Regions from separate parts of the Homo sapiens genome. Here regions 1 and 3 are each linked to region 2. Evidence: fine-mapped expression QTL. A gene starts in region 2. Each other region holds a variant in brackets. All regions are shown on one strand. Distances are from middle to middle. Region 1 overlaps TOP3A (DNA topoisomerase III alpha). Region 2 holds the start of SHMT1 (serine hydroxymethyltransferase 1). Region 3 overlaps SLC5A10 (solute carrier family 5 member 10).

Region 1 (8,314 bases), 74 kb after region 2:
GCATTCTAGAGCGGGGTGGTCCCACCCCACGCAATGGGAACAAGTCTGACCAAGCTCACCCTCCCATTCACCCCACCAAATACACCAACAACTTACAGGTTGGTTTCCCTGAATGTACTGCCTGCTGGAACCCATAGGGAAGTGCTGGGGGTCAGTAGTAAGGTTTGAATTTACTCTGTGGGCTGTGATTGTAAAAACAAGTGATTTTGAGATCTCTCTCATTTCACAATCCTCTGCCTGGCTTTGATAAAGACCGCCTCATCCCTCCCCGTGGTGGGCCCCCGTCTTAATCCAGCTCCACATCCCACTCTCCATCAGCTCCTGCTGCTTCCCTGCTAGTCCTTCATAGGCAACCCCTGTGCAGACCCCCACCTCCACTGTGAGCCTTGTGGCCTTCCCAGTCCCTGGAACTAGAGAATTCTATCCATCCTCCCAAGGCTGGCTCAGTTTTGGTTGCCTCCTGAAACTTTGCTGCCACCCCAGTCGTGCCACCCCCTGTCACTGCAGTTTCCCACACAGCTCTGCTTGTCTGTCTCAGTCATTTCCTCAGCCAGGGGCAGGCTCTGCAGGCACAGGAGCCATTAGGCTTGTTTACATCTGTAGGCTTCTCACAAAGTTGGGGAAATGCTTGTTTACATCTGTAGGCTTCTCACAAAGCTGGGGAAATCTTAGTCTTTTGTTCTTCTCCTCCTTCTTTTAATAAAATACATTCTTTCTGATTTTAAAAATATGGCCGGACGCGGTGGCTTATGCTTGTAATCCCAACACTGTGGGAGGACAAGGCGGGTAGATCACGAGGTCAGGAAATTGAGACCATCTTGGCCAACATGGTGAAACCCCATCTCTACTAGAAATAGAAAAATTAGTTGGACGGGGTGGCATGTGCCTGTAGTCCCAACTCTCAGGAGGCTGAGGCAGGAGAATCGCTTGAACCCAGGAGGCGGAGGTTGCAATAAGCCGAGATTGCACCACTGCACTCCAGCCTGGCGACAGAGTGAGACTCTGTCTCGGAAAAAAAAAAATTACATGTTCATTTTAGACAAATTAAGAAATACAAAAGTTTATAAGGGGGTAAAATTGCCTATTAAGCATGATATTTAACAATTACAAAGATGTGCCATAATTTATTTTGCCAAATCTGTTTTTTGTGTGTTTTTGATACTATAGTTAACATTTGTAGACATAAATATTTTTGTGGTTCTCCAGTTATTTCCTTTGAAGAAATCCTTAGAAGGGGAATTATTGGATATGTGTATAAATGTCTCATGGGCTTTTGATAGACTGAGGCTCACTAAATCATTGATTACCTAATTGAAAATTACCCTGAAAATTACTGCTTAAATGTGTGCATGAAGTTGGGCTAAGGCCACCAGGTGCAATGTTGCTGTCTCTTGTATTTGAGGAGTGTCTTGCTAACTTCTTACGCTTTCATCTTGTTTTCTGCTTAGATTGCGTTTACATCAAAGAACCACTTCCCAGTCTGGAAGGGAAGATGACTCCTTTGCTTATCTTTGCCAGATTTGAGTTGTGAGATGTGTCAACCTAAACCCATCCTCTCCCCAGGACTTGTTTGCCTGGCACTCCATGTTAGTGCAGGGCCTGAGGAGCAGTGTGGCCTCTTCTGTGCAGGACATTAGGCTAAGGCTACCAGTGATGCTCCTGTCCTTGAGAGGTGATATTCTAGGGGGAGTTTCGTACTCCTCTTTTCTTCCTAGGGAGATGAACAGCGACTGTACGAGTTTATTGTTCGCCATTTCCTGGCTTGCTGCTCCCAGGATGCTCAGGGGCAGGAGACCACAGTGGAGATCGACATCGCTCAGGAACGCTTTGTGGCCCATGGCCTCATGATTCTGGCCCGAAACTATCTGGATGTGTATCCATATGATCACTGGAGTGACAAGGTAATAAAGAGTGGTCCCCAGTGAGAGGGAGGACAGTTGTGTTGTGAGCCCTGAGTTCTCTAGTGGAGCAGGATCATGTTCCTTGAAATGAGGTTATTTTTTGCCTGAGTGTGCTGATGGAATCATCTGACTGTTGCACCTGCCGCTCCCTGTAGATCCTCCCTGTCTATGAGCAAGGATCCCACTTTCAGCCCAGCACCGTGGAGATGGTGGACGGGGAGACCAGCCCACCCAAGCTGCTCACCGAGGCCGACCTCATTGCCCTCATGGAGAAGCATGGCATTGGTCAGTGGCTCCTCTGGGTAACTCGCATCTCTTGAGCTAAGGCTTACAGTGTACCAGGTACAGGTTTCCTCTAGTCTTCAAACCATTCTCTAATGCAGCTGCTATATCTTTATCCCATTTTATAGTTGAAATAAGGCTCAGAGAGGTTAAGAACTTACCTAAGTTCACAAAGTGTGTATTATTAAAACCTGGTCTGAATAACTCCACAGTCAGTGCTCTTAAACCATGCACTGTGCTGTCCACATAGTAACAGAGACTTTTCCCATGGCTTTGAGGGCCCAACTGGGAGCACCCATTGGCCACATGAGGATTTGTTGTTCTTTCGAATAAGAACAGCATGTAAGGAACCAACAATTAAAACTTGGGACAGTTATCATAAAATCTATCTTCATTTTGAAGTGTCAGATAGAGCCCTGAGCCTCCTTCCCATGTGGAGCATTGGGTGAGGGTGGCAGCTGTCTCTGCAGGTCTGAACCCACACTGCTCACTCAGGCTGCTCACGCTGGCCTCATGTATGTGCCAGGACCCTGCTGATAAGTCCCATGGCTCAAGCTTTGCAGGTAGGGCCTTGTAACTAATCTGCTGTCCCCTCCATTCGTTTTTGTCAAGGCTCTCAAGGGCTTTCTCTGGCAAACCTAGTCCAGGAATACCTGCAGCACAGTGGAGGGGAAGCAGAGCTCCCTGGGCATGTGTTACATAAGCAGCTGCGTCATCCACAAAGGGAGTTTCTTAGGCCTATGACTTGGGAAGCAGTGCTTCAACGTGAAGTCCTTGACCATCACTAGGACATCCAGAAACCCTGCAGGTTTAGGTAAAATTAGTAGAGGTTCACCCGTCATGATTTATTTGATAAAAATGTATGAAGGCTGGGTGTGGTGGCTCACACCTGTAATCCCAGCATTTTGGGAGGCCAAGATGGGTGAATCACTTGAGCCCAGGAATTCAAGACCAGCTTGGGCAACAC[G/A]GTAAAACCCCATCTTGCTGGGCGCAGTGGCTCACGCCTGTAATCCCAACACTTCAGGAGGCTGAGCTGGGTGGATCACCTGAGGTAGGGAGTTTAAGACCACCAACCTGACCAACATGGTGAAACTCTGTCTCTACTAAAAATACAAAAATTAGCCAGGCATGGCGGTGGGCACCTGTAGCTGAGATTGTGCCATTGTACTCCAGCCTGGGCAACAACAGCAAAACTCTGTCTTAAAACAAACAAACAAACAACAACAACAACAACAAAACAGATCTGGCTGGGCACGGTGACTCATGCCTGTAATCTTAGTACTTTGGGAGGCCAAGGCGGGTGGATCACCTAAGGTCAGGAGTTCGAGACCAGCCTGGCCAACATGGCAAAACCCCATCACTACTAAAAAAATACAAAAATTAGCTAGGCGTGGTGGCACATGCCTGTAATCCCAGCTACTTGGGAGGCTGAGGCAGGAGAATTGCATGAACCCGGGAGGTGGAGGATGCAGTGAGCCAGGATCGCAGCACTGCACTCCAGCCTGGGTGACAGAGTGAGACTCCATCTCAAAAAAAACATTTCTACAAAAAATTAGGTGCATGCCTATAGGTAGGGAGGCTGAGGTGGGAGGATCACTTGAGCCCGGAAGGCAGAGACTGAGGTACAAAGTGTGAGGCCCACAAGAGTGAGAGCTTGGACTAAGCACCAGGGACACAAGGAGGAATAAGACCTCATTTTTTAAGTTCTCAATCTAACAGAAGAACCAAACCAACACATTGAATACAATGTAATAGTTCTGCAGGGAGTAGGCAGGGAAGAAAATGTGATGGGTGGACTGGCATTTGAGCTGGACCAAAACCTCATAGTAAGACTTCTGGATCAGCGAAGGGCAGCCCAGTGCAGGGTAGGCCTGAGGAAGGGCACAGGAGCAGGAAAGCAGAAGCCTGCTGTAGCTGGATTGGAGGGGGGTGGCCATAGAAGGTGAGCCTGGAAAGATGATCCAAGCCTGACTTTGCAGGGCCTTGGCTTGCCCAGTTGAAGGGCTTAGATGGTGGTACATGGTCAGCAGGGAGTCTTCCAGGATTTCTAAGTAAAGGAACCACATAGAGGTACACTTACAAAAAAATAATAATAATATTTTTAAAAGATTATTAACAGGCTGGGCATTGTGTCTCACACCTATAATCCCAGCACTTTGGGAGACCAAGGTAGGGGGTCAGGAGTTCAAGACCAGCCTGGACAACATGGTGAAACTCCATCTCTACTAAAAATACAAAAAATTGCTAGGTGTTATGGCTGACGCCTGTAATCCCAGCTACTTAGGAGGCTGAGGCAGGAGAATTGCTTGAACCCGGGAGGTGGAGGTTGCAGTGAGCCAAGATTGTGCCACTGCACTTCAGCCTTGGTGACAGAGAGAGACTCCATCTAAAAAAAAAAAAAAAAAAAATTTATATATATATATATATAATTATTAACAGCTTTATTTATATACCATACAGTTTATCTCCTTCAAATGTATAATGTACATTTTTTAGCATATTCACAAAGTTGTGCAGCTATCACCACAGTCAGTTTTTTTGTTTTTTTTGTTGTTTGTTTGAGATGGAGTTTTGCTCTTGTTGCTGCAGGCTGGAGTGGAGTGGCACAATCTCTGCTCACTGCAACTTCCGCCACCCAGGTTCAAGCGATTCTCCTGTCTCAGCCTCCCGAGTAGCTAGGCTTACAGGCACGCACCACCACACCCAGCTAATTTTTGTTATTTTTAGTAGAGACAGGGTTTCACCATGTTGGCCAGGTTGGCTGGTCTCAAACTCCTGACCTCATGATCCGCCCACCTAGGCCTCCCAAAGTGTTAGGATTACAGGTGTTAGCCACCATGCCCGGCCCCTAAAAAAATTTGTTTTGGAGAGATAGCATCTTACTCTGTCACCCAGGCTAGGTCACAGCCATGAACCCTGGGTTTCAAGGGATCCTTCCACCTCAGCTTCCCAAGTAGCTGGGACTACAGGCATGTGTTGCCATACCCAGCTAATTTTTTTGTTGGGTTTTTTGTTTGTTTGTTTTGTTTTGTTTGAGACAGAGTCTTACTCTGTCACCCAGGCTGGAGTGTAGTGGCACGATTTCAGCTCACTGCAACCTCCGCCTCCCAGGTTCAAGAGATTCTCCTGCCTCAGCCTCCTGAGTAGCTGGGACTACAGGTGCGCATCACTGGCTAATTTTTGTATTTTTAGTAGAGATGGGGTTTCACTGTTAGCTAAGCTGGTCTCGAATTCCTGACCTCAAATGATCCACCCGCCTCGGTCTCCCAAAGTGCTGGGATTATAGGCCTGAGCCACCATGCCCAGCCAGACTTTTTTGTTTTATGTAGGGACAGGGTCTTGCTATGTTGCCTAGTCTGGTCTTGAACTTGCACCCTCAAACTGTCCTCCTACCTCAACCTCCCAAAGTGTTGGGATTACAGGAGTGAGCCACTGCACCTGGCCAGATTTGCCTACTTTAGTTATTTCCTATAAAGAGCCAGGCACAGTGGCTCACACCTGTAATCCCAGCACTTTGGGAGGCCAAGGTGGGCCAATCACTTGAGGTCAGGAGTTCGAGACCAGCTTCACCAACATGGTGAAACACTTTCTCTACTAAAAATGAAAAAATTAGCTGGGCTTGGTGGCAGGCGCCTGTAATCCCAGCTACTCGGGAGGCTGAGGCAAGAGAATCACTTGAACCCGGAAGGCAGAGGTTGCAGTTGATGGACACTTGAGTTGTTTCTACTCTTTGGCTATTATAAATAATCCTGCTGTGAACAGTTTTGTACAAGGTTTTGTGTGGATATGTGTTTTCATTTCTCTTGGGTAGACTTAGGAGTGGGATTGCTGGTTTACTTGGTAACTCTACATTTAACATTTTTAGGAACCACCAAACTTTTCTGAAGTGGCTGTACCGTTTTTCATTTCCACCAGCAAGGCACTAGGATTCCAGTTTATCCACATCCTTACTAACACTTAGTATTATCTCTCTTTTTGATTTTGCCAGTAGGTCTGAACTGCTATTTCACTGGTTTTTTTGGTTGTTTTTTTGTTGTTATTGTTGAGGTGGAGTCTCGCTCTGTTGCCCAGGCTGGAATGCAGTGGCTCGATCTCCGCTCACTGCAGGCTCCGCCTCCCAGGTTCATGCCATTCTTCTGTGTCAGCCTCCTGAGTAGCTGGGACTACAGGTGCCCGCCACCACACCCGGCTAATTTTTTTTTTTTTTTTTTTGTATTTTTAGTAGAGACGGGGTTTCACCGTGTTAGCCAGGATGGTCTTGATCTCCTGACCTCGTGATCTGCCCGCTTCGGCTTCCCAAATTGCTGGGATTACAGGCGTGAGCCACCACGCCCAGCCCTTTTTTTTTTCTTTTTTTTTTTAAAGAGAGTCTCACTCCATCACCCAGGCTGGAGTGCAACGGTGCCATCTCAGCTCGTTGCAGCCTCTGTCTCCTGGGTTCAAGTGATTCTCCTGCCTCAGCCTCCTGAGCAGCTGGGACTACAGGTGCGTGCCGCCACACCCTGCTAATTTTTGTATTTTTGATAGAGACAGGGTTTCAGCATGTTGGCCAGGCTGGTCTCGAACTCCTGACCTCAGATGATCTGCCCACCTTGGCCTCCCAAAATGCTGGGATTACAGGCATAAGCCACTGCTCCCAGCCTTCACTGCAGTTTTAATTTGCATTTCCTTCATGGCAGAGCTACATTTTGAAAGGTCCCTTTGGCCACAGCTTAAAGAATGGTTAGGGTAGAGGAAGAGACTAGAAATAGGGACACAAGCTGCAAGTATGGCTTGGACACATGGGGAAGAGAATTTTTAAAAAGAGCTTTGAAGCTGGAATTGACAGCTTTCCTGAGTAATGGGATGTGAGGGAACAAGAGAGTTGAGGTTGCCATTGTGATTTCTTGAATGAGCTATATGGGAATGAAATGAAGGCATCTTACCTGCATAGGCTGTCCAGGCAAAGGAGGGATTCCGGGGTGAGCAAGGTGCCCATGCGCCACCCGGGTGGAGCTGTTGTCTGTATTACCTCAGAGTAACCAGCAAGTGGCTTCCAGGTACGGATGCCACTCATGCGGAGCACATCGAGACCATCAAAGCCCGGATGTACGTGGGCCTCACCCCAGACAAGCGGTTCCTCCCTGGGCACCTGGGCATGGGACTTGTGGAAGGTAAGGGAGGACAGAGCTTGCAGTGGGTAGTGGGTGGTGTCGCCCAAGTCCCTGAGGGTCTCAGGTGGGCCCTCACTGAGCTCGACTCTCTCCCTGCAGGTTATGATTCCATGGGCTATGAAATGTCTAAGCCTGACCTCCGGGCTGAACTGGAAGCTGATCTGAAGCTGATCTGTGATGGCAAAAAGGACAAATTTGTGGTTCTAAGGCAGCAAGTGCAGAAATACAAGCAGGTTTTCATTGAAGCGGTGGCTAAAGCAAAGAAGTAAGTCCTTAAAAGAAATACAGAGGGGTCTCACTATGTTGCCCAGGCTGGTCTTGAACTCCTGGCCTCAAGAGATCTTCCCACCTCAGCCTCCCAAAGTGTGGGGATTACAGGCGTGAGCCACCGCATCTGGGCCAGTCAGAGTTTATAACCCTGCCAGATTCATCCTCACCAGTGGCCTCCTGGCCTGGAGGTTTTCCACATACCCCTTTTCTTTGGACTTTCTTCTCTGGGTTCTTTTACAACTCTCCATAGAGCTTTGTCAGTATAGAAACAGTAATCGGAACAGTCTCCTTCAGTTATTCTGAACTATTGGCTTTAGAAATACCATTCTCTTGATTTTAATTATCTTTTTTTTTTCTGCTTTAATTACATGACACATTAATTATCTTGAGTTAGGCAACAAAGTCTTTTAAATCAGTAAACCCAAGTGCTGGAGTGTGATCCATTTGTTTTCTGGAGCATTTAGAGGTGGATATTTAGCAAGCAGCATGTGTGTATTTTGTTAGAAATGATGTGTTTTCTACCTGTGATATTATGATTTATAATAAGATATATATATTTGGACTTCATTTTCTGATACCCTTGGAATTTTTTAAGTGCTGTGTCTGTTGTATACAAATGAGATGACTAGTGGCCAAGGGCTCCTGGGTAGCCTTGGGATCGGTCTGGTTGTCAGGGAACCAACCCTGTGATTAGAAGGTTGGGACTTT
Region 2 (8,145 bases):
CCCAGCAGTTTGGGAAGCTGAGGCAGGTGGATCACTTGAGGTCAGGAGTTTGAGACCAGCCTGGCCAACATGGCAAAACCCCGTCTCTACTAAAAATACAAAAAAAAAAAAAAAAAAAAAAAAAAAGCCAGGTGTCATGGTGCATGCCCGTAACCCCAGCTACTCGAGAGGCTGAAGAAGGAGAATCACTTGAACCCAGGAAGCAGAGATTGCAGTGAGCCAAGATCACGCCACTGCACTCCAGCCTGGGCAACAGAGACTCTATCTAAAAAAAATAAAAAAATAAAAAATGAAGCATTCAGTGCTGGAGAAGAAATGGGAAATGGGTATTTCCCTAAATTGTTGCTGGGAGTGTGAATTGTTACAATGCTTGTAGAAAGCAATATGGCAATATTTACTAAAAGCTTGACCCAGAAATCTTACTTTGGATATTAAAAAACTCACGGGTTGGGCACAGTGGCTTATGCCTGTAATCCCACCACTTTGGGAGGCTGAAGCGAGCAGATCATCTGAGGTCAAGAGTTCGAGACCAGCCTGACCAACATAGTGAAACCTCGTCTCTACTAAAAATACAAAAATTAGCAGGGCGTAGTGGCGCACGCCTGTAGTCGCAGCTACTTGGGAGGCTGAGGTGGGAGAACTGCTTGAACCCGGGAGGCGGAAGCTGCAGTGAGCCGAGATCACACTATTGCACCTCAGCCTGGGCAACAGAGAGAGGCTCCGTCTCAAAAAAACAAACAACAGGCCGGGCGCGGTGGCTTGTGCCTGTAATCCCAGCACTTTGGGAAGCCGAGGCAGGTGAATCACGTGAGGTCAGGAGTTCGAGACCAGCCTGGCTGACATGGCGAATCCCTGTCTGTGAGAAAAATACAAAAATTAGCTGTGCACGGCCGGGCGCGGTGGCTCATGCCTGTAATCCCAGCACTTTGGGAGGCCGAGGCAGGCGGATCAGAGGTCAGGAGATCAAGACCATCCTGGCTAACACAGTGAAACCCTGTCTCTACTAAAAATATAAAAAATTAGCCGGACATGGTGGCGGGCGCCTGTAGTCCCAGCTACTCGGGAGGCTGAGGCAGGAGAACGGCGTGAACCTGGGAGGTGGAGATTGCAGTGAGCGAAGATCGAGCCACTGCACTCATGCCTGGGCGACAGAGCGAGACTCCGTCTCAAACAAACAAACAAAAAGAACAATTAGCTGGGCATGGTGGTGCACGCCTGTAGTCCCAGCTACTCGGGAAGCCGATGCAGGAGAATTGCTTGAACCAGAGAGGCAGAGGTTGCAGGGAGCCAAGATCGCATCACTGCACTCCAGCCTGGGTGACAGAGCGAGACTCCATCTCAAATAAATAAATAAATAAAACAAAAACAAAAAACAAAAACACTCACTATGTTGGCCAGGCGCAGTGGCTCTTGCCTGTTATCCCAGCACTTTGGGAGGCCGAGGAGGATGGATCACTTGAGATCAGGAGTTCAAGACCAGCCTAGCCAATATGGTGAAACCCTATCTCTACTAAACATACAAAAATTAGCCGGGTGTGGTGGCTCACGCCTGTAATCCTAGCACTTTGGCAGGCTGAGGCAGGTGGATCACAAGGTCAGGAGATCAAGACCATCCTGGCTAACATGGTGAAACCCTGTCTCTACTGAAAATACAAAAAATTAGCCAGGCGTGGTGGTGGGCTCCTGTAGTCCCAGCTACTCGGGAGGCTGAGGCAGGAGAATGGCATGAACCCAGGAGGCAGAGCTCGCAGTGGGCCTAGATCGCGCCACAGCACTCCAGCCTGGGCAAGAGAGGGAGACTCCGTCTCAAAAATAAAAAAAAATTAGCCAGGCGTGGTGGCGGAGGCCTGTAGTCCCAGCTACTCAGGAGGCTGAAGCAGGAGAATGACGTGAACCCGGGAGGTGGAGCTTGCAGTGAGCCGAGATCGCGCCACTGCACTCCAGCCTGGGCGACAGAGCAAGACTCTGTCTCAAAAAAAAAAAAAAGTTTTTTTTGTATTTTTTGTTTGTTTGTTTTTCGAGATGATGAGGGTCTCACTCTGTTGCCCAGGCTGGAGTACAGAGGCAAGATCATTGCTTACTGCAACCTCTGCCTCCCAGGCTCAAGTGATCCTCCCATTCAGCCCCCCAAGTAGCTGGGACTACAGGCGACTGCCACCACACCCAGCTAATTTTAAAATTATTTGTAGAGACAAGGTTTCACCATTTTGCCCAGGCTGGTCTTGAACTCCTAGGCTCAAGCCATCTGCCTCGGCCTCCCAAAGTGCTGGAATTACAGGGGTGAGCCACTGCGCCCGGTTTTTATCATTCTTATAATAATTATTGTTATCATTTGACAAATAAAAAAATTTATGACGCAGCCTCAGGTGGTCCTGACATGTGGCCCCGGTTTTTATCATTCTTAACAATAGGTAATGTTCATTGAGTCCTTATTGTGTGTCAGTATTTTATTTATCTTATTTTATTCTTCTTGAGACGTTGTCTCGCTCCGTCCCCCAGGCTGGAGTGCAGTGGCGCGATCTCGACTCACTGCAACCTCCGCCTCCTGGGAGGCAACATAGTTAGACCCCCATCTCTACTTCAACCTGGGGGACAGAGTGAGACCCTGTCTCAAAAAAATAAAAATAAAAAATAACAAAAATAATAATAATAAAGTGTCTGCTCTTGGATTATACACCTACAGAGTAATAATGTTGCAGTTTGGACGCACATTTGTCCTACTTTAAATGACCACCCTGCAAACTAAAAGTAGTACCATGAACAAAATTCACTCATAATCCCACGGCCCAAGCGACAGGCTTAAGTGAGGAAGGCCCTGTGTAGTCTTCCTGGAAATCTTGGTCCACACACCAGCCCTGCAGCCAAAGCGGGTCAGTTCTGCAGGTCCCTGCCCCAGGTGCGCAGCTGCACTACGCGGCCTCCGGCCCGCCCCGGAGAAACAGGCCCTGCCCGCCGCTGCGCCGCAGCCAATAGCGCGGGTGCGTTTGGTGGCGGCCCATGCTTGGCTGCGCTCTCTGATTGGGCGCCTCCGGGGGCGGGGCCAAGCCCAAGCCTGGCGCGCAGAGTGCACCTTCCTGAGCTCGAGCGGTCCAGCGCCAAGTTCGGGGTTTGGGGTTGGAGCGGCTGGTCACGTGGCTGGCCCGCGGCGGTGCGCGGGGCGTTGGGTCAGCGGGTCTGGGACTGGTGGCACCGGCGGCGGCGTAGGACGGAGGCGTCGCTAGGTACGTGCGCGGGCCGTGTTCCGGTAGGTGGGCGGCTTCGGGTCCGAGGGCCGCGGCGTCCCAGAGCCCGGGGGGTGCTTCGGCGTCCTCGCTGTCCCCCGCCGTACCCCACCCTCTGCAGCCGCAATGACGGGAGGGGAGCGCTTGGGTCGCGCCTGGGCTGGGGATCGGGCGGCGGCCAGCCGCAGCGCCCCAGTTCCAGGCACATTCGGTATGATGGGGTGGCGGCCCGTGGCCTTTGGCAAGAATGCGAAGGCTTATCGGGGATGTGAGTAGTAGCTCTCCACTGAACACTTTTCTCGTTGAGCATTTTCGATTTAAACAATCCTAGCTCCTTCACAACAAAGCTGCAAGTCAAGTGCTACTGTTTCCCCCATTTTACAGGTGAGGAAGGTGGTGGGGCCCTGAGAAAGGAGGCAACTTAAATGGCAGAGCCCGGAATAGAACCCGGGTTCTCAAAGCCTGCGCCCCTAAAGGCTGCGCGCAGGGTCGCTCCACTTTTGGCCCGTGCCACCAGATCCCTGTGGGGAATGAGCTCTTCCTGTTGCCCGCAATCTGCCACCCCCTGTTCTAGGAGACAAATGTTGCACTGTGAAGTTCTTGGCCCGGTGCCTTGGCTTCGAGATTCCGGGAGTTAAGTGACCCTTGGTCCAGCTGAGGTCAGCACAGATGCGGGCCTTCAATCGGGCAGTTACCCAGAGAATAGACTGGAAACACCAGTTTAGGTTCTTGCAGAAATAACATTGTAGGCCGGGCGCGGTGGCTCATGCCTGTAATCCCAGCATTTTGGGAGGCCGAGGTGGGCGGATCACTTGAGGTTAGTAGTTGGAGACCAGCCTGGCCAACATGGTGAAACCCCGTCTGTACTAAAAATACAAAAAAACCTGGCTGCCCATGGTGGCACACACCTATAATCCCAGCTACTCGGAAGGCTGAGGCAGGAGAATCGCTTGAACCCGGGAGGTGGAGGTTGCAGTGAGCGGAGATCACGCCACTGCACTCCAGCCTGAGTGACAGAGTGAGACTCTATCTCAAAAGAAAGAAAGAGAGAGAAAGAAAAGAAAAAAAAGAAAAGAAATAACGTAAATTTATTACTTGGGGGAACTTGGAACGGAAGTGGGTAATTGTGTTTTTATTTAGTGCAATGTCCTGGGACAAGGCCTTGGAACTGAAGAGAAACCATTGTTCAGATTCTGGCTCTTATATGGCTTTAGACAAGTTAGCTCCCTGGGCCTCAATTTCCTCTTCTGTAAAGAAGAGAACACAAAATGTGTGTGAGATAGAAGATGTGCAACAAGTTAGTTCCCTGAGCAGATCCTTGGCTGGATCCTCTTATGTGACAGAGGCCCAGGTAAGATTTGGAGGCATGGGGAGGCTGGTGACCTTGCAGGTGACTTCACTTACTAGGTCTTTTTCCCTGACGTTGAGGATCATGCCACACATGAGCAACAGTGCCTCTACAGAAATATCCAATGTTGTAATGACTGATGTTGCAGTGAGCTGTGTTGGCTGGGGGACTTACCAGGTATTACTGAATGTTAATGAAGATGTCCCTAAGATTCCCAATTTTCTTTTTTTTTTTTTTTGAGACGGAGTCTCACTCTGTTGCCCAGGCCGGAGAGCAGTGGCGCGATCTCGGCTCACTGCAAGCTCCGCCTCCCGGGTTCACGCCATTCTCCTGCCTCAGCCTCCTGAGTAGCTGGGACTACAGGCGCCGCCACCACGCCCAGCTAATTTTTTTTTATTTTTGTAGAGACGGGGTTTCACCATGTTAGCCAGGATGGTCTCGATCTCCTGACCTCGTGATCTGCCCGCCTCGGCCTCCCAAAGTGCTGGGATTACAGATGTGAGCCACTGCACCCAGCCCCCTTTTTTCTTTTTTGTTTTTTTTTTTGAAACGGAGTCTAGCTCTGTCACCCAGGCTGGAGTGCAGTGGCATGATCTCGGTCCACTGCAATCTCTACCTCACTGGTTCAAGCTATTCTCCTGGTCTCAGCCTGCTGAGTAGCTGGGATTACAGGCATATGCCACCATGCCTGGCTAATTTTTGTTTTTGTTTTTTTTTTTTTTTTTGAGACAGAGTCTTGCTCTGTTGTCCAGGCTGGAGTGCGGTGGCACGATCTCAGCTCACTGCAACCTCCTGGGTTCAAGCGATTATCTTGCCTCAGCCTCCTGAGTAGCTGGGGTTACAGGTGCGCACCACACACCCAGCTCATTTTTGTATTTTTAGTAGAGATGGAGTTTTACCGTGTTGGTCAGGCTGGTCTCGAACTCCTGACCTGGGGTGATGCACCCGCCTTGGCCTCCCAAAGTGCTTGGATTACAGGAATTGAGCCACTGCGCCCAGCTAATTTTTGTATTTTTAGTAGAGATGGGGTTTCACCATATTGGCCAGGCTGGTCTCAAACTCCTGACCTCAAGTGATCCACCCACCTCGGCCTCCCAAAGTGCTGGGATTACAGGCGTCAGCCACCGCGCCTGACCGCTTTTTTTTCTTTCTTTAGAGAGACGGGGTCTCCCTATGTTGCCCAGGGTGGTCTTGACTCTTGTGGTCCTGTGACTCCCCAGACTTCAGGTGTGCAAGCCTGATTTCTGACCCTTGGCCAGTCACACTTTCTCCTTTGTCTGGCCTTTGAACTTGGGGTGCTCTGCACTTGTTTACTCTGCGTAGATTGCTCTCATCCCAGATTTCATGGTTGGCTCCTTTCCACAGCTCAGATTTCAGCTCCGGGACGTTCCCTGACCCAGTCTAAAGTAGCCTTGCACCCATTTATTGCATCTTTCTTTCTTTTCTTTTCTTTTTTTTTTTTTTGAGACAGGGTCTTGTTCTCTTGGCCAGGCTGGAGTGCTGTGGGAAAATCTGGGCTCACTGCAGCCTCAACCTCCGGGACTCAAGTGATCATCCTGCCTCAGCCACCCAGAGTAGCTGAGAATACAGGCGTGCGCCACCAGGCTCGGGTAATTTTTTGTATTTTTTTTTAGAGACAGGGTTTTGCCATGTTGCCTAGGCTGGTCTTGAACGCCTGGGCTCAAGTGATCTTCTCGTCTCAGCCTCTCAGAGTTCTGGGATTACAAGTGTAAGCAACCATGCCTGGCCTTGTGTATTTCTTTTTGGTTTTTTTTGTGATGGAGTCTTGCTCTGTCACCCAGGCTGGAGTGCAATGGTATGATCTCGGCTCACTGCAACCTCCACCTCCTGGGTTCAAGCGATTTTCCTACCTCAGCCTCCCGCATAGCTGGTATTACAGGGGCCCACCACTATGCCCATCTAATTTTTGTATTTTTTAGTAGAGACGGGGTTTCGCTGTGTTGGCCAGGCTGGTCTCGAACTCCTGACCTCAGGTGATCCGCCCGCCTTGGCCTCCCAAAGTGCTGGGGTTACAGGTGTGAGCCACTGTGCCTGGCCAAATAATTTTTTTTTTTTTTTAAGATAGAGTCTTGCTTTGTTGCCAGGCTGCGGTGCAGTGGTGTGATCTCTGCTCACTACAGTCTCCGCCTCCTGGGTTCAAGCCATTCTTCTGCCTCAGCCTCCTGAGTAGCTGGAATTACAGGCGGGCGCCACCACACCCAGCTAATTTTAGTATTTTTAGTGGAGATGGGGTTTCACCATGTTGGCCAGGACAGTCTTGATTTCCTGACCTTGTGGTCTGCCCGCCTTGGCCTCCCAAAGTGCTGGGATTACAGGCGTGAACCACTGCACCTGGCCTTTTTTTTTTTATTGAGACACAGTCTCACTCTGTCACCCAGACTGGAGTGCAGTGGCACAATCTCGGCTCACTGCAGCCTCCACCTCTGAGGCTCAAGTAAGTCTCATGCCTCAGGTGTGTGCCACCACACCCAATTAATTTTTTATATTTTTGCTATAGACAGGGTTTCACCATGTTAGCCAGGCTGGTCTCAAACTCCTGGCCTCAAGTTGATCTGCCCACCTCAGCCTTCCAAAGTGCTGGGATTACAGATGTGAGCCACCTTGCCCAGCCTAATTTCTAAATTTTTGTAGAGACGTGGTTTCACTGTGTTGCCTAGGCTGTGGTTGAACTCCTAGGCTCAAAGGATCCTCCTGCCTTGACTCCCCTAAGTGCTGGGATTACAGGCATAAGCCACCATACCAGGCCCTTTTTTTTTTTTCCCCTGGAGACAGAGTCTTGCTTTGTCACCCAGGCTAGAGTGCAGTGGTGTGATCTCGGCTCACTACAACTTCCGCCTCCCGGGTTCAAGCGATTCTCCTGCCTCAGCCTCCCAAGTAGCTGGGGTTACAGGTGCCTGCCACCACACCTGGGTAATTTTTGTATTTTTAGTCATGTTGGCCAGGCTGGTCTCGAACTTATGACCTCATGATCCGCACGCCTTGGCCTCCCAAAGTGCTGGGATTACAGGCATGAGCCACTGGGCCCAGCCCAACCTGTAATTCTTTAGGAAGATTTATATTCAAACAAGTCCTTTTTTTATTTAAAAGAAAAAAACACACACACACAGGGTCTTACTCTGTCACCCAGGCTGGAATGCACTGCCACAATCACGGCTCATTGCAACCTCTAGCTTCCAGGCTCAGGTGATCCTCCCACCTCAGCCTCCTGAATAGCTGGGACTACAGATGCATGCCACCACGACCAGCTAATAATTTGTATTTTTTGTAGAAATGGGGCTTTGCCATGTTGCCCAGGCCAGTCTTGAACTCCTGGGCTCAAGTGATCCTCCTGCCTCAGCCTCCCAAAGTGCTGGAATTACAGGCATGAACCACCACACCCAGCCCAAGTACATATTTTAACTAACAGCTTCACAGGAACTCTGTGGATTACTTAGAGCATGTGCTTTGGGGTTTCGAGTCCTGCCTCTGTGGCTAACTTTCTGTGCAGCCCTGGGCTAAGATATTTTACTTTTCTTTGAGACAGAGTCTCGCTCTGTTGCCAGCCTGGAGTGCAGT
Region 3 (8,000 bases), 650 kb before region 2:
GACAGCGAAGTGCAGGTAGTGGATGCTCCCCAGGACGGCTGGCCGCGTGTCTGGCTCTCCGCACGGTGGGGCTGGGTTCAGGAATTCCAGGACCAGCCTCGTGGCCCCCACCACCAGCCCTGCTATCAGGCCCCAGAAGGCCCCCTGGGGAGGAGGGAGGCAGGGCATGTGGGGCTACGGGAGGAGGACCAAGGCTCCCCCCACAGGCAGCAGGGAAGAGCAAATTGTGGCACGTCCCCAGGGAGAGCAGACCGCCGACGCCCACCTGCTCGTTGGCACGTCGCCAGAAGACGCCCAGGACAAAGACTGCAGTCACTGGTGGGGCCAGGGAGCTGGTCACTGACTGCATGTAGATGAAGAGTTGCCCGCTGTTGGAGTCCTGCAGGACGGGGATCCAGGCCACACTCACGCCGATGAGTGCCACTATGACCAGCCTGCAGGCGAGTGGAAGGCAGGCAGCGGTCGTCGTGGGAGGCTCTTCAGCTCTCTCCCACCTCCCCTGGTCACTAAGACTTGCTCTCTAATCTTTCCCCTGCTACCCCAGCTCCAGCCTCCTCCCTGGACTCTGGTCCACACCACCAGTGACCTGGCCAGTCCTGCCCTGCTCCAAACCCTTTGGTGGCTCCCTGGATCCTGCAGGTGCAGCTCCTGACTCTAAGTGCTGTCTGCTCCTTCCCTGCCCTGGGGTCTCTGCGGAGCCAGCCCTTGGAGCTCCGCCATGGAGCTCCCTCTTGTCTCTCCTTCAAAGCACCTGTCCCAGTCACTACATGCACATTTACCTGGGTGTCTACTTGTTTACTGCCTGTCTTCCCCTCCCAATGGAAGCACCAGGAGAGCAGGAGCCTCATCTCTTTAGTTCATTGCTGTGTCTCCCAGCATATAGTAGGTGCTTACTAAGCATTTGGTGAGTGCATGAATGACCACTGCCCCCCGATCTGGGCCAGACTGACTTCCTGGTGGTTATTTGAAGACACTAGGATTTTTCACACTGGCCGGCATTTGTGGGAGCTGGGACCTCTGGCTGGCACATCCCCACCCCGACAGCCCTGTGCTGCACATCCTTCACAGGGCAACCTGCTTACTAAGGATGCAAAGTTTGGAGCCAGAGGTGTGGGTTGGGGTTAGAGCCCATACTCCCCAGCTGTGAAGCCGGAGCCCTGCTGGGCCAGCATGAGCCCGTCCCCTCCTGTCCCCTGCGTGTCAGCTCCTGCCTGCCTCTCCCTTAGGCCAAGAGCCCCTCTACAACAGGCACATGCTACACTTGTTCATCCAACAAACCACTGGTGAGGTGCTCACCTGCGTAGGACACTACCCTAGGATCCCCAACTCGGCGATGAGTGGGACCTGGTGCCTGCCCAGCACTCAGAGTCCAGCAAAGAAAACAGATGAGCCTCTTACCTACACTCGGACTGGGCTGGAGCAGCTCAGAGGAAACATCAATCTAGGAGGGCTTTCAGGAGGAGGCACCCCCTCCCCGAGCCTTGAGGGGCATGGGACCCAGCTAAGGGGATGAAGCTGGGGCATGGCATCCATCCGCTCCTCCCTGGCTGAGCACCTCACCCCTGTGTCCTGGGTCAGTTGGCATTCCTCACCCCCAAGGTGGGTGGTGGGTGACCCGCTGGAACCCTGGCTGTGGTGGCAGGGGTGACAGAGGCTATGTGTTCAGCTAGGGTGGGTCCTCTCAGCGCCTGTCCGCCTTCCTCCCTCCCTTTCTTCCCTTCTAGGCCTGAGGGAGAGGGTGGAGGAAGGAGGTGCCACCTTGATTAAGGCTAATTAACCCCTAGCCAGGCAGGCAGGCGGGCGCTGCCCTCATCAAAGGCCCAGGCGGGCCTCCATTAACGCCTGCCCACCCCGCCCTCTGCACACAGCTCTCCCGCCCAACACCAGACTCTGCATCTCTGTGCCAGGGCTGGGGCCACTCCAGCCAGGCCCTCGCTTTCTTACCCAGCCTTCTTACCTGGCTGCCAGAGGACCCCCAAACCCAGAGGCTGCTCCTTCTGCCTGGAATGCCACTCCCTCCCATGCCACCATCAGGGTGGATAGTGCCCTCCAGCATCTCCCTGGGCTGCAGCCACAGTTACTGTGGAACATCTCAAGGAGGGGTGTCTGAGATCTCTCCGAGTCCTGCACAGGGTTTCCAGGAGGCTGTGGGCCCCATTTACGGACTGAACAGCCGGGAACACAGACAGGGGAGAGTGGGGCAGGGGGGCAGTGGCGGAACAGTGGACTGAGGTGTGGGGGCTTGGGGCAGGCATACGGGAGTGGGGGCGGGTCATCGCTCTCCCCCAGCCTGTGACGGCTCCTCCAGCCTCTGCTCAGCTGGACAGAGCCATCAGGGTCACCGGCATGGTACTGCACCCGGCCCTGCGATGGCCTCCTCTCCAGGCCTCTGGGCTGTTGGTCTTCTCTCTGTAAGCCTCGCCTCTCCCTGACAGAGACTGTTGTCAGGCCATTCACCCTACCAGAGATCCATGACCACGAGGCCTAGGAGATACCGCTCCAATGGTGGTGTTTCGGGCAGGAGGAAGCTGAGACGGCTTTGAGGGGCTGGGGGTGTTGAGGGTATCCCAGTGCTGTAAGAGGGACGGGAAGTTGAGCTGGCCAGCCTGACACCTGGCACGGGGCCCTTTCTGCTCTATCCAGCTGGCAGCTGAGAGAACTGGGGCCCAGAGAGGGTGAGCAACCTGCCCTGCACCACGCAGCCTTGTGCCTTGCTCCTCAGGGAGGCCGACTGCCAGGCTTGCAGGGCTAGGGGCGGGGGTTGACTTGGCAGAAGAGGTGGGAAGGAGGGTCAAGGGCACGGGCAGCTGGGTGAGCTGGCGCAGCAGGAGGCCAGGTCAAGACTTTTGGTTGCAGGTGGGAGTCTGGGTGAGGAGGCCAGGAAGTAGTGGGCAGGGGACATGAGGGCCACTGGGCAGGTACAGGGGCTACCAGTGTCACACACTGGGTGGCAGGAGGGCATCCAGTTCCCAGGGCCCAGGATGCTGGAGCATGGAGGGGCTTAGAGCAAGGTCTGGCCTCAGAGGAGACACATGGTCAGAGAGGGGCAGGGTCTTCCCCAGGCCACACAGCTTCTGAGGAGAGGCAGGGGAGCCAGAGGGGGAGAAGTGGTCAAGGGGCCAAGTGCCCAGGACACAGGGACATGGAAGTGTCCTGCCCAGTGAGAGGTGGGAGGCTCCTTGTTTTGGAGAATCCTGTGAGCCCGTGGATGAGCTCACTCGCACCCGCCTCTGGCGTGTCCCAACAGGGCCCTTCCAACAGAAGCCTGACTATTTTGCATCCCTGGGACAGCTGCCTGGAGCTCTGGAGGAGACCCCACCCCCAGGATGGGTGCCCTGGGCTCCTGGCCAGGGGGTGCTCTGTTGTGCCAGAAGGCTGGACCCCCGAGCAGCAGAGTGTGAGCCACACTGCTCAGAGGACAACAAGAGGGTGGGACTGGAGGGCCAGGGAGGGCGCAAATAGACACGTGCACATGGGAGCTAACCTCTGAGGATGTAAAGGCATAAGAGTGATAGGATGGGCTGGGCACACTGGCTCATACCTGTAATCCCAGCCCGCTGAGGTGGATGAATAACCTGAGGTCAGGAGTTCGAGACCAGCCTGGCCAACATGGTGAGACCCTGTCTCTACTAAAAATACAAAAAGTAGCCAGGCGTGGTGGTGCGCTCCTGCAATCCCAGCTACTCAAGAGGCTGAGACACGAGAATCTCTTGAACCCGGGAGGTGGAGGTCGCAGGGAGCCAAGATCATACCACTGCACTCCAGCCTGGGTGACAAAACGAGACTGTCTCAAAAAAAAAAAAAAGAATGATACAATGGACTTTGAGGACTCAGGGGAAACGCTGGGAGGGTGTGAGGGATAAAAGACTACACATTGGGTACAGTGTATACCACTCGGGTGATGGATACACCAAAATCTGAGAAATCGCCACTAAAGAACTTATTCATGTAACCAAACACCACCTGTTCTCCAGACACAGCCCCGGTCCTCATGAAGCGCCCAGATATTTGGAGAAGGGTGTCGGGGAGGTCTCTTGGCCTGTAATGGCCACATGTGCTGTGGGAAGAATCTGGCAAGCGTCCCTGGGGTATGAAGGGGAGAGAGGCTCATTCCTTGGTTGAGGGTCTCAGGGAGGACTGCACGGAGGAGGGGACACAGGCAGAGTCCAGAAAGATCAGCATGAGTCATCGAGGTGAAAAAGGAGGGGACAAGCTGGGCTGGGAGGAAACAAGCTGGAGCTCAGTAGGGCCAGGGCCATGGAGGCTGAGGGACGTGGCAGCCCAAGTGTGGCCAGTCCTGAGTGCTGGCCCGGGGGCCCTCTGTGGCGCAGCTGGGAACCATCAGGAGGAATGGGGGCCCAGGTTTTCGGGGAGATAGAGAGATCTGTGGCATGGTTGGGGAGGGAGGGCTGGCCCCTGCAGAAGGAATCCAGCTCAAGGGTGGAGATGCATCCCAGATGAGGGCTGTGATCACACAGAGGTGGACAGGAGAGCAATGTGAGAGGTGGTATGGATGGGGTACACTGGCCCTTCTCTTCCCTCCTTCCTGGCATCCACCTTTCTCTAAGTGGCAAACTCCGGCTCATCCCTCAAAGTCAGTGCGGGCGCCCACCCTTGTAGTGTTCCCCCACCCCCGTACTGGCCCCCACCCCCGTACCGTCCCACCAGCAGGAGCTCCCGCTCGCCGGAGCGGGGACGCAGCCGCCTCCAGATGTCCATAGTGAAGAGGGTGCTGCTGCTGTTGAAGATGGAGGTCAGCGACGACATGAGCGC[C/G]GCCAGCATCACTGCGATCATCAGCCCCCGCAGACCTGGGGTGGGACGGGGGATGTGTGACCCTGTCCGGCCTTGAGACAGCCCCGGGAACCCCTCCCGCCTGGGCTCTAATGCCTGAGGCCCGCCCGCCATTTGCATGCTCCTCCAAGGCAGAGGGCGGGGAGGGAGAGAAGCTGAGGAGGTTTGAGGTGAGCAAGACCCAGAATGAGGAGACTGGGGAGGCCAAGGACAAACCGTGGGGACTTCGGAGCTGGCTGCTTGAGCCCTAGGCTTGCTGGCAACCCTAGGCCCGACCATAATTACTCATAATGCTGAGGCTGCGATCAGGCCTGTCCTTTCTGCAGAGCCTGGCGTTGACAAAGCACTTTCACACCCATGCCTTCGTCCGAGGAAAGCATGATTAACCCGCTTGACAGATGAGGAAATGGAAGCTCAGAGAAGTGAAGAGATTGCCCAGGGATTCACAGCAGGCCAGCGGCAGGACTTTGGGGTGCGGTGGGGTTGGTGAGGAAGGCTTGGGCGGGGCCTCTGCTTGAAGGCCACACCCTGGGCAAGATGCACACCTCACCCCAGCATGCAGTGCCCCAGTCTCTGGAATTTTCCGCCACTTCCTGTGCATGGCAGGACCCAGCAGGCATAGTGGATCCCCTCTCTCCTTGGCTCTGTGGTTTTCCAGAGTGGGAGTGAGGGCTCCCCTAGGAGGTGCGGGTAGCATTGCTGTGAAAGGCCTTCTGGGAGTTGTGGGCTCAAGAGGGCCTGAGGGTGAGGAGCCCTAAGGAAGGTGGAAGGATGCTCAACTGCCCACTCTGTGCTGTGTGGCTTCAGGCTGGTCGCCTCCCCTCTCTGGGGATGAGTTCAAGTCTGTCTACAAGAACTCCTGCAATTTTAAGCACCTCCTTTACCTCTACAAACTCTTGCCCGTCTGTCCTAGGATAAGCCTGACATAGGCCCCCCTGCCCGGAAGGCACAGCCATTTATTGCCTGGCTGGGTTGTCTGGCCTCGGTTCTGTGTCTGATTGGCTGTGTGACTTCCAGGTGTCTCTGGGCTCTCTGTTCACTTGTCAGAAGCTGGTTGGGATGGAGCCCAAAGGAAAGTGAGTCAAATCACAGTTTTCCCCAAAACATTTCTCCACCCACTCCCTTGTCTTGCTCATGGAGATGGATGAACTTGGAGCTTATTCCATCCATTTCTTAGAGAGGGAACTCAAGACCTAGAGAGGGACTGTGGCCCAACAATGGCTCGGTGTCAGCCCTGGAGGGCTTAGCGAGTCCCCTTGCCCAGAACAGAAGAGAAAAGCGAAGGCCCAAGGTGGGAACTACAGCATGGCCAAGCCTGCACCCAGCATTTTCCCTGTGTCATTATGTTTAATCCCAGCAACAACGCTGAGGGGTGGGTAGATGCCATTATCTCCAATTTACAAATGAGGACACCCAGGCTCCAAGCAGGGAAGTGACATGCCCCAAATTTCTTGGCCAGTGAGTGGCAGCCTCCACAGTCCCCATACTCATTGGGCCCCAAGTCCAACCCCACGCCCTCCACCCAGACCCCCACCCACACAGCCTCACCGATGGGCATCAGTTCCATGACCAGCTTGGGGTAGGCGATGTTGGAGCAGCCGACCTCGGCCCCGCAGGCCCGCAGGCACTCGGACGGCACCACGCAGCCCACATCATCTGTTCGAGAGACGGACACTTGGTGTCTCTCCTCATAGACATGAGCACCTGGGGTGGGCAAGATAGGGCTGGGGGCAGGAGCCTGGCCCAGACCTGCTCCATCAATGCCTCTGACCTGTTACCATTTGGCCTTGGGCCTCAGTTTCACAATCTGAGCCACAGGGAGGGCATGGCCTCTGAAAATCCTTTTCCCTGCTGTTCTCCATCATAACTCTTCTTCCTGATCCTACTTCTTGGCCAGGGGGCTCACCTGCCGTTGGCTCTGCTGTGTGAGGTCCGCCATTAGAGTCTACCTGGGGCCTGAGCCTCCCTTGCCCCCCTCGTCCCCAGCCATTCTCCCCAAAGGGGGAAATGGAGGCTAGAGAAGAGAGAGGCCTGCAGGATGGGCCCTGCCCCAGGCCCTCAACCTGTTCCCTGGGCTTTGTGTTCACTCAGCGACAAGTCAACAAGTCGCGTCTGTCCATGGGCAGCCGGCTTGAGTGTGCTGTCACACAGCTGCAGCTCATGCAGCAGGGCTGTGGTGAAAGCTCAGGGGCTGGCGAGGCCTGCCTGCTCCAACTTCCTGGCTTAGGACGTGGGGTCAGAGCCCATCCACACCCCTGTCTCCAACCCTGGGGTCCAAGCTTTACGCCAGGCTATTTCCTGCTGCAGAGAGCTGAGCTGATGCCCAGGACTCTCCAGCCACTCAGCCTCTCAACAGTCTACAAGACCCTGGGTGATCCAGACCCTTGGCCCCTCCCCACAAGTCCCTCCTCGCTCCCACCTGAGGCCTGCCCCAGGCCTCGCCTGAGGACTGCCTCCTTCCCGAATTCCGGTCTGTCCTTCCCACCCCATTCTCCGTCTGTCCCCTTGCCCCACATCGCTTTCCCTCATCCCTTGTCATCCCTGGGAGGACTTGGACATGTTTATTTGGTTCTTGCCACTTCCCTGTGGCAGGTGAGTCCTGAGAGGACGGGGTTTGCCTCGTGCTATCTCCCCCATGGCTGGGGTGGTACACACGGCTCATCTGTTGAATGAAAGGACTCACGAATTTCCCAGGCTCAGGCCAGATCCCGACTGAACCCTAAATCCAGGCATCCCTCGGCCTCCTGCCCTGTGTGGGGGCAGAACCCCGGCCTACCTCCATAGCCCTGAGGTGTGGGGCTCTCCTCACTGCTCTGCTCAGTGAGATTTGCTGGTGTTAGCAGTCGTGGGGCTGACTTTGGCCTAGTGATACGTAGGGATGAAGAGAGTTGACCCACATTCTCTTTTTCCTCCCATAAAAGACTTTCTAGAAAGCTTTGGCCCCTGCTTCTGGGGTTTTCAGGAGGGCCCAGAGTGCAGAGCTAACCAGAAGATGATGATTACGGGGGAGTTCAGAAACAAGCTGACTGACAGCACTGCAGTGGCTGGTTAGGGGCAGGCAGAGTTGCAACACAGCAGCAGCAGGGGCGGCTGGCATTGACACTTCTGTGACTTGGTGCTCCCTCTGTAGACTGCCCCCTCCAAAGCCCCCTTCTGATACGTCCCTTCTTAGATGCCCAGCCCATGGGGAAGGGCGGGTCTCACACCCC

Evidence for each region. PIP is the estimated chance that this variant, and not a neighbour inherited with it, causes the effect. A credible set is the group of variants that fine-mapping cannot tell apart.
Region 1: its variant is the best candidate, but not a certain one, in a credible set for the expression of SHMT1 in whole blood (INTERVAL, PIP 0.50).
Region 3: its variant is the best candidate, but not a certain one, in a credible set for the expression of SHMT1 in prefrontal cortex (GTEx, PIP 0.65).

Annotation. Positions count from the first base shown.
Region 1 is chr17:18,284,429-18,292,742 of GRCh38, reverse strand. TOP3A (DNA topoisomerase III alpha) reads left to right here. Exons shown (of 19, transcript NM_004618.5): 11 at 1-98; 12 at 1,716-1,901; 13 at 2,057-2,186; 14 at 7,223-7,336; 15 at 7,436-7,601. Among named protein-coding and RNA genes, the nearest start is that of TOP3A, 26 kb to the left of the region's middle. The variant G/A (reference allele first, on the strand shown) is at 3,151.
Region 2 is chr17:18,358,448-18,366,592 of GRCh38, reverse strand. SHMT1 (serine hydroxymethyltransferase 1) reads left to right here and starts at 3,043. Exons shown (of 12, transcript NM_004169.5): 1 at 3,043-3,221. RefSeq lists a silencer at 2,949-3,418.
Region 3 is chr17:19,011,857-19,019,856 of GRCh38, reverse strand. It overlaps SLC5A10 (solute carrier family 5 member 10), which reads right to left. Exons shown (of 15, transcript NM_001042450.4): 10 at 6,340-6,447; 11 at 4,658-4,808; 12 at 266-434; 13 at 1-144. Among named protein-coding and RNA genes, the nearest start is that of FAM83G, 11 kb to the right of the region's middle. RefSeq lists an enhancer at 4,784-5,773. The variant C/G (reference allele first, on the strand shown) is at 4,774.